Linked DNA regions of Homo sapiens: all the other regions are reported to be linked to region 2. The links are microRNA targets in miRTarBase. Many come from high-throughput screens and were not tested one by one. Region 2 holds a microRNA gene; each other region holds the end of a gene's coding sequence.
Evidence for each region. The annotated mature microRNA hsa-miR-550a-3p reads UGUCUUACUCCCUCAGGCACAU and lies in region 2 at 1,328-1,349, shown strand. An mRNA with a match to its seed (bases 2 to 7 or 8) in the 3' UTR can be bound and repressed. Matches are read on the target gene's strand: a 7mer-m8 pairs with bases 2 to 8, a 7mer-A1 pairs with bases 2 to 7 and ends in A, and an 8mer does both.

Region 1: the mRNA of HPS4 is a reported target of hsa-miR-550a-3p. Seed matches in the 3' UTR shown: 7mer-A1 at 1,504-1,510.
Region 3: miRTarBase lists TPM3 as a target of hsa-miR-550a-3p. The part of its 3' UTR that is shown has no 7-base or 8-base seed match.

Annotation. Positions count from the first base shown.
Region 1 is chr22:26,450,541-26,453,540 of GRCh38, forward strand. HPS4 (HPS4 biogenesis of lysosomal organelles complex 3 subunit 2) reads right to left here. Exons shown (of 14, transcript NM_022081.6): 14 at 342-2,864. The coding sequence ends at 2,693. Among named protein-coding and RNA genes, the nearest start is that of ASPHD2, 23 kb to the left of the region's middle.
Region 2 is chr7:32,731,714-32,734,955 of GRCh38, forward strand. MIR550A2 (microRNA 550a-2) reads left to right here and starts at 1,268; the gene lies at 1,268-1,364. MIR550B2 (microRNA 550b-2) reads right to left here and starts at 1,364; the gene lies at 1,268-1,364.
Region 3 is chr1:154,165,424-154,168,423 of GRCh38, reverse strand. TPM3 (tropomyosin 3) reads left to right here. Exons shown (of 10, transcript NM_152263.4): 10 at 484-3,000. The coding sequence ends at 487. It also overlaps the pseudogene RN7SL431P. Among named protein-coding and RNA genes, the nearest start is that of NUP210L, 12 kb to the right of the region's middle.

The DNA of each region.
Region 1 (3,000 bases), not on the chromosome of region 2:
CCCCTCTAGGGGTCCTTTCCCAGTAGGAATCTGATTGCCACTTGATATGGTTTGGCTGTGTTCCCACCCAAATCTCATTTTGTAGTTCTCATAGTCCCCACATGTCGTGGGAGGGACCTGGTGGGAGGTAATTGAATTATGGGTGTGGTTACTTCCATGCTGTTCTTGTGACAGTTCTCGTGAGATCTGATGGTTGTATAAGGGGCTTTTCCCCCCTTTCACTCTGCACTTCTCTTTGCTGCCACCATGTGAAGAAGGATGTGTTTGGTTCCCCTTCTGCCATGATCATAAGTTTCCCAAGGTCTCTCCAGCCCTGCAGAACTGTGAGTCAGTTAAACCTCTTTCCTTTATAAAGTACCCAGTCTCGGGTATGTCTTTATTAGAACCGTGAGAACGGACTAACACACCACTATTAATCACTCATGCGACCTTTATCCTTACAGTTCACAGGTGGCAGATGGCTGGCACAGAGGAAGCCAAAACAGAGGCTTTTCTGCCCTGAAGAGTCACTAGAATCTGTGGTCCTGGATCACTGACAGTGGCACTCGGTGTCAACTAGGAGTCCAGGGTGGGCAGGCTGTCCTGCACACTGCCTTCCCTTGGGAAACATGGCCATAAGAGGTTGTGGTGCCCATTCCAGCAAGAACATGCTGCTTGGCTGTCCGTCGCTTGGCCCGTACTCTGGGGGCGCTAATTTTGAGGGGATGGGCCTGGGGCTGTGGGATTAACCGTGTCCTGAGTGACCCCCTGAAACCTCTGAAATATTAAAAAACGGGAAAACAGCGGGTTAAGTGTTTCTTCTCTGCAGCCTCTGGGCCACAGTTACCAAGCTTTAGAGATGACGGCTGCAGCTGCCAGTGCCCTGGGGCTCTGAGCAGAACCTCCACTGCAGAAACTAAGCAGGATCAAAGGAGGAAAGAAAGGGGCACACCTGCAAAGTGAAGTTTCAGGACTTTACTTTTTCTGAGTTAATCCAGGTGCATGAGACTTTTCCATATACACGGATAGGCTTTGTACGGTTCCATTTTGGGTCAGTGGAAGAATTTTCACAACACAAATGACATTATAAAGTTGTCTTCGCTGGCCTGGTACTGGGGACCACTGGTCAAAGACAACGTGAGACATTGCGGGGACTTCCTGGAGCTGCAGCAACCACAGCAGAGAACTTGTAATCAATTTTTTCTGGGAGAACATAGCAGAGGAGTAAGACAACATTTATCCTAGCTTCGGATAGGATCCTCTTCCATCTAGGCAGATGGGATCCAAGAGACAGCAGAGATCCTGGAGAGAGGTGATAGAAGAGGGAGACACAGGCTTGGTGTATTGGATCAGCTGCAGCTGGTGCTCCCTGGAGCAGCAGGCTGCAGCCTGGCAGCCCTACAAACAGACGGTCCTTACCCAGCCACACTGAACCCAGGGAAGGAAAAGAGGGATGCGCCCACGTTACGCGCGCGCGCGCGCGCGCACACACACACACACACACACACACACACACACACACACTGTCTTAACCCTTACCTTTGTCACAAAAAAATGCTGCCATTTAATTACTCAGAACTCCAGCATTTTTTGGCTATTTTATTTCTAGCCCTTGGAAGCTTGTTTCAAGAAAAAGACACCATATCATAAACATCAGATATCAGTTCACTGACATGAAATTATTAACAATACAACTCTCAAATGGAATCTCAAGTACTTCCAGTAAACATTCAGTTAAGATTTTGACAAATATTTTCATCCTGCAGTCTGTCTCATACTGTCAAAAAAATGTCTGACTATAACGTAATAGAACTGAGGTTCTAAGTACCACACAAGCCCAGGAACACACAGCTGAGTGTCGCTCCCTTTCACGCAGCCACCACTGAAAAGCACAGTGCTTTTACCCCCAGACATCTTGTAAACTCCTATTTAGGGACACTCGCTCGAGAGGAACCAGCTGCACGGCCCACTTGTAGTCAAAGGCAGCGCAGGTTGGTCCTGTTGTCACTGAATTCTCAGGGCTCAGCCCCCAGAGCTTTTATAAAGGGATCTCTAAAGCCCAAACTCCCTTCCATATTATTAAGGCTTGCCCCCATTGTGGGTCCAAAGAAGACGCCCCTAGATTTGAGTAGAGTTCCAACAGAATTCAACCAAGTGGTCTCCGTGTGCTGCCGCTTCCCTGCAGGAACGATCCGGACCTCCCAGCAAGAGCGCACTGGAGAAACCTACCTGCGGCGTGGGAGTGGAGTCGGCCTGCTCACAGATCCGGCACCTCGCTGTGCAGTCACACCGCCTACCACCACCTGGTGTGGGGGTTGAACACACACACTCTGGGCTAGTGGACGATCAGGTTCTAGAAAAAATGCCAACTTGGAAGCTTGTGGCACCAATTCAAGCTGGGATGGAACAGCAGGAGATATGAAATACCTCAGGCTCAGTATGGCAGAGAGGGAGCCAAGCCCGTCCCGGCCCCAACACTACCGATTAAATACAGTTCTTTATCAAGTGCTCTGGGTCTGCCGACCTGAAGAACTAACCCCTGCCCCCAAAACACATCCCAATCTGCAAAAGGAATAACAAAAACTCAAATATCATTTGGTTCCTAAAAAAGGGAATGTTTTCAAGAAAAATAAAATAGAGGGGCCTTTTCAATTATAAAAGGCAGAGCTTCCTTTGCTGGTTTTCTCCTTCCCAGTCACCTCCTGGGTGCAGTTCAGAGCAAGTTCACCCCGTGCTTCAGCAGCTTCTGCTTTGCTTTGCCGGAGAGGCTGAAGGCGCCATCCTGAGGGTTTGGGAAGCCGGAGCTCCGTGCTGCAGGTGCCAGCTGCTGGAAATATGTCTCCTGGATGGGGTTGCAACAGGCGTACACAGCCGTGGAGGCATTTCTGTTGGAGGAAGAAAGAAGGCAACGGTCCAATGCTGCTGGTGCTAATCTCAGACCACACAGAGACCTCAGTAAGGTTCTTGTCACAGAGGACCCAGGACACCCAATGTGGCATGTGCAGCTGTCATGGCACGGAA
Region 2 (3,242 bases):
TTGCCACATTGAACGAGGAAGTTTTCTGTGTTGGTTTTATGTTTTGCTGTCTTTTGGACATCTATTTTCGCTATATACACTCTTATTCTCTCTAGAGAACTGGAAGAAAAATGCCTAATCCAGATATTTCAGTGTGTAGAAATTTCCTAGAATTGAGTTGCCGGACATCAGAATGTGATTATATTTAGGAGTTCTTAGGTGAAGTAAATCTTGTCCTTATTATTCTTTTCAGACTGAGGAGTGTTAAAGTGAACAGACGCTTTCTTGACTACTGCTAGTGTCGTCCATCACCTTTGTTTTAAAAAAGGTCTTAAGGGTATTTCCTAATATTTAAAAATCTTGACGGTATTTTAGGGTTTGTTTGGCTTTAATTTACGTCTACGTTTTTTTTTCCACTGTCAAGTAGCTATTGTTCATAAGAGCATAACATGAGTGGTCAAATAGCCTTTAATGATGCAGCAAGGATGGGGTAGATGAATTGGGCTATAGAAATATACCAATACATGGAGATTATTTCCAGAGACATCGTGTGGACTTCTATAATGTATCTTTGAGTCCGGAAGTGAAAATGTAAAATGACTTAATCTAAGACAACTAGTGGTGCTGGGTTGCTTTTGGCCTCCTGATTTTCTTGAGCTTTTTTGGGTGTGGCTTGCTCATGAGTATTTCAGTAGTCTGATTGTAACTCAGGTGCCTTGTTACTTGTGCAACATGTTTTCTTATATTGAAGGAGTGTGGGTTATCTCTTAAAACTGAATATGTTGAATAAGACCTGTATTTCTAGGACGATTTCTCTTAATTTTTAAGCAGATGTGAAGTTTTATGCTGTTAGGTTGTCTTCATCAATTAACCATTATGGAATTGGTCTCAGTTATCTCTTCTTACCAATATCAAGTGCCAAAATGTTTGAATTTGGGATACTCTAATTAATCTACTTCCTATTCCTGAATGTTATTTTGTGCCATTGAAGGCTTTTATGGGGAGTGGCCAAAGAGGAATGTTTGCCTCTTTCTAAGAAAAATGAGCCTTCTAACCACAACCCCTGCCACTCCTGAAGTAATAAGAATTTTGGTGGTTATTGTTTCTCACTTGTAATTTCATACCTTCGTGTTATATGTTTTGCTGTGTGTAAGTGTGGCCTGTGTCATGGACGTTTCTGCTTTGGGGATTTTTTGGAACTATTCTTGACTGCAAGGTGGGGAGGATTGGTGAGTTGCACAGGGCATCACCTGATCTGAGAGCAGCGTGACCTAAGAACCTGGTATTTTGATGCTTTGCTGGCTGGTGCAGTGCCTGAGGGAGTAAGAGCCCTGTTGTTGTCAGATAGTGTCTTACTCCCTCAGGCACATCTCCAGCGAGTCTCTTGCTCTCCTCCAATTTGATTGCTTTGCCTGGTGACCAGTAAGTAAGTTCTTTTGATTACCAAATATCATTAATTAGATATCAACTTTTAAACTATTTATTATTATTTGGGTTTGTAAGGAGAATTGCCCTAATATTAAACTTATTACATGTACTAAGTATTATGTACAATTGGGTATACTGGCAAATGTGTTAAAAGAGAGTGTAGGAACTGCTTTATGTAGCAGATTACTTCCTAAGTTTTACCTTATGTGAATATTCTTAAGAACTATTGTTTATTTGAAATGTTAGTCTGTGTTTTAATTTTGCATATACATGACATTTATTTGTTTAGAAATTGGACAAAACATAGGCCTTTTTGTGAACAAAGAGTTCAGAAATACCTTAGGTTCTGATTTTATTCATTTTCTTTTTTTTTTTATTTTATTCATGTTCTAAGCTGCTTGTTCACAAATAACTACAAATTTAGCTGTTCTAAGCAACACATTTATTACCTCGCAATTTCTATGGGTCAAGAGGCTGGGCACAACTTAGCTGTGTCCTCTGTAAGACTGCAGTCAAAGTGTTGGCCAGGGCTGGGTTGTTATGTAGAGACTCAACTGGGGAAAGGTCTGCCCCCAGACTTCCTTGGGTTATTGGCTGAATTTATTTCCTTGTGTCTGTTTGGTTCAGAGCAGCTTGCTTCTTCAAAGTCAGCAAAGGAAGAGAGTCTATCAAAGGTGAACTGGTGCTATGTTCTTACATAATCGTGTACATGTAATCACATACAACCCATTGCCTTTGCTGTATTTCATTGATTAGAAGCAAGTCATAGGTCCAGTTCACGTGCAAGGGGAGGGAATTATACAAAGGTTTAAACACCAGGAAGTGTAGGAATCAAGAATAGTCACATCAATTCTGTCTGCCACATGGATTATAGACTTAGATTGACAGCTGAACATGCAACTTTTTTTTAAAACTCAGTTTTTATTTACTTTTAAAAAGTTGTACTAATGCATATGGTAAGTATAGTATTAATAAACATGAATTGAGCCCCTTTTAGGGGCTGGGCATTGTAGATATTCAGGGTTTAAATGTGGGGCTTCTTTATGCACTGCTCAACTCTCCATTGAATTTGAGAGATGGATATGTGTGATCATTATACAGTGCAACAAATTCAGTAATAGAACTGTTAACAAAATGCTTCGTGAAGTATCTTTGTCTAGGCTAGTCAAAAAATGCTTCACAGAGGAGGGTACATTTGAACTGTAGTTTGAAGGATTTAGAAGTTTTATGGAGAGAGGGCACTGTAGACTAAAGAAAAATCCACAAAAGCTTGGGTTTTGATAGGGCATACTGAAAAGTTAAATATGTCTGGACTGTAGGGTGCATAGAGGAATGATGAGCACCTGAAGCTAGAAAAATAGAAAGTGGAGCCAGTTGAAGGATTTTATAGTGCTGTAGGTTTGTTTTATCTAATGAAGTTTGAAAGCAGGGGGAGTATCATGATTAGGCCATTGGGCACAATTAACATTCGTAGTTTACATGGATGGCAACCTTCTCTAGTGGTGCAGACTTCAGGCTGTATGCAGCAACCCTGATCAGGATTCAGTTCTTAAGGAGGAGAGTGTGATAGCAGGAGGATAAGTTAGGATTCTTTTAGAATATAACTGATAGAAGATGCCTACGTTGAAAAGATGGCATTGGTGAGGGAGAAGAAAAGTTAGATTTGATTGAGATTTCTAAGGTAGAACTGATAGAATTGAGAACCTGGGTACACAGTGATGTCTTTAACCAGTATTAAAGATGAAAATAACAAGTTTTAGGAAATGATAATGAGTTCCTTTTAGGCCTGTTAAATTTGAGTGGCTATAGGATTTCCATCTGGATAGAAGTATCCT
Region 3 (3,000 bases), not on the chromosome of region 2:
TCTCAAATTTAGTCTTCTCAGAAGGGATACTGCTAGAGGTAGAATCCATACAACTAAGGAAATAGGGCCCACAGAGCCAGTAACTTGGGCCCTGACACATTAAGACAAAATTCAGGCCTCCTGGGTGTGTTTAATTGGTTCCCTGATATTAAAGTTCAGGGAACTACCCAAGATGGGAAATACCAAATTCACCTAAGAATTGAGCTGAGTCCCAGAAGCAAGCCAAGTGATAAACAGCACCAAAAAGAGTTGTTGGGGCTTCATCTGTTTGCTGTGGATCCCTGATCCTTGATGCTAATCTGCCTCTTTGTATCTTTCCCACTAACCCTGAAAAGAAGCCACATTTCTCAGGCTGAAGTGTCTGGCTCTCTTTTATTATTCCTGCTGCCACCTCTTCCTTTTTTTCCTCTTCCTTTTTCCCAGTTTGCTATCTAGATTGATGCTAGTCCTTCTCACCTAGAGTATCCTTACTTTTTCATACAGATAATTATCACCGTTTCTGCTCTGTTCTGGATCTGCCCCCTTTACTCCTCGGGGAACCCAAGGCCCCACTCTCGCTCTGGATTCCATTTGGGTCAGCCTGGCTGGTCCCCAAGGCATTAGGATGGGGGAGCAAAAAGCAACTTATGTATTTTCTTCCACCCCCACCCCAAATTAAAATGTTAAGCTGCTGGAAACCTCATGCCACCCTGCATTTGTGTCATTGACAAAGCTGTTGCTGTCCCTAAGAAGGAGCCTTGGGGGTGTGATGTGGGGAAGAGCTATTGTAGGCTCCCCCTCCTCTGACTTATGTAATCAAAGCCACTTTTGTGTGTGTCTATTTTTTCTTGACATTTAAACTCAGCTGATCTGATTCTACCAGAGTGATGGATTTAGTACAGGTTACTCAGGATAGTAATTTTAGTTATACTCCTCAAGCTGAACAAGATTAAATTCCTTATTTCCAGGTTCTTAAATCATCCTGCCTGCAGTGTTTCCATTCTCTCTTCAGGTATTCCTCCTTTGGTGTGGTGTCATTGAGAAGCCATTGAAGTGACTCTCAATACACATTCTGTACCCTTTTACCGGTGGTTCAAATGGTGCATCCTCAGAACACCCAGTGAACCCAATACATTATTGCTAAGATTGACTAATTATGTCAACTCCAGTCACAGAAAAATACACAATGGATAGAATTCTGGACGGTTTTTTTACTTTTTCTTCTTTAAACCTTTCTTACATATTTGAGACTTGCTACCATTTGCCTGCTAGTGTGTGACTAGTGGGATATAAGATAAGTGATAAATTATTATTGGGAAAACTAAAATGACCAATCATGCATATTTCAAATAATGTGCATATGAGGCTAATGATTTATTACATACATAAATTTCTGCTAGTAAAATTTTCCTTGGTTCATATTGTGGAATTAAATATCAACATTTTAGAAATTCCCATTATAGGCCGGGCGTGGTAGCTCACGCCTATAATCCCAGCACTTTGGGAGGCTGGGGCAGGTGGATCACCTGAGGTCATGAGTTCGAGACCAGCTCGGCCAACATGGTGAAACCCCGTCTCTACTAAAAATACAAAAATTAGCTGGGCATGGTGGGTGGGTGCCTGTAATCCCAGCTACTCGGGAGGCTGAGGCAGGAGAATCGCTTGCACCTGGGAGGCGGAGGTTGCAGTGAGCGGAGATCGCGCCACTGCATTCCAGCCTGGGCAACAGAGAGACTCCATCTCAAAAAAAAAAAAGGAATTCGCATTCCAATTTACACAGCAGAGATTTCTTAATAGTATAGCTGTGAATTATACTAATCCAAGCACGTAAGTGTTGTTCACTTAGTACTTTAGTTTCCCAGCAGGGTATGTATTTAAAATTTGCTTTTCTTTTAGCTGGGTGCAATGGCACTTGCCTGTACTGCCTGTAGCTTCTTGGGAGGCTGAGGCAGGAGGATTGCTTGAGCCCAGGAGTTCTGCACTGTAGTGTGCTATGCAGGTCAGATGTCCTCACTAAATTTGGCATCAGTATGGTGACCTCCTGGGAGTGGAGAACAACAAGGTTGCCTAAGAAGGGGTGAACTGGCCCAGGTCGGAAATGGAGCAGGTCAAAATTCCTGTGCTGATCAGTAGTGGGATTGCACCTATAAATAGCCACTGTAGTACTCCAGCCTGGGCAACACAGCAAGATTCCATCTGTTAAAAACACTTTTGCTCTTCTTTTAAACAGATATAATCAGGTAGGGAAGTTTTCCTTAATCTAAAACTTTAAGTCATATCAAATTCACGTTTCCTTTTGTCCATTCCATTTCTTACTGCCGCATAGCCTTTGAGATTAAGGTTCAGATTCATTTATTCAGCTGACACTTCCTGGTATCTTCTAGGTATAGGATATTAAGATGGAGACAGAAATAAAGATGGAGGCACCATTCCTACTCTCAAGTTGCTTAGAATCTACTAGGAGAGAAAACATACATAAAGCTACAGATACTGTGTGATGAATGCCACAAATAATAGTGTTATGGGAATTGAGTAGAGGGGACGAGATTGATCCTAGTGGGAATGAATTGGAAAAACTCATGGAAGAAGGCATGTAATGGGTACTTCATAAACATGTTAAAACTTTTTTCTTTTTTTCTTTTTTTTTTTTTTTTTGAGACGGAGTTTGACTCTTGTCACCTAGGCTGGAGTTCAGTGGCCTGATCTCAGCTCACTGCAACCTCTGCCTCCTGGGTTCAAGCAGTTCTCCCACCTCAGCCTCCCGAGTAGCTGAGATCACAGGCGCCTGCCACCACACCCAGCTAATTTTTGTATTATTAGTAGAGGTGAGGTTTCACCATGTTGGCCAGGCTGGTCTGGAACTCCTGACCTCAAGTGATCCACCCACCTCAGCCTCCCAAAGTGATGGGATTACAGGCTTGAGCCACTGCGCCCAGCCAACATGTTAAACTTGCATATTCATTTTTATTGGGTTCCAAAAGTGGATTTTTGACAAGCAGAGTTGGGTTGTGGGATAGTGAA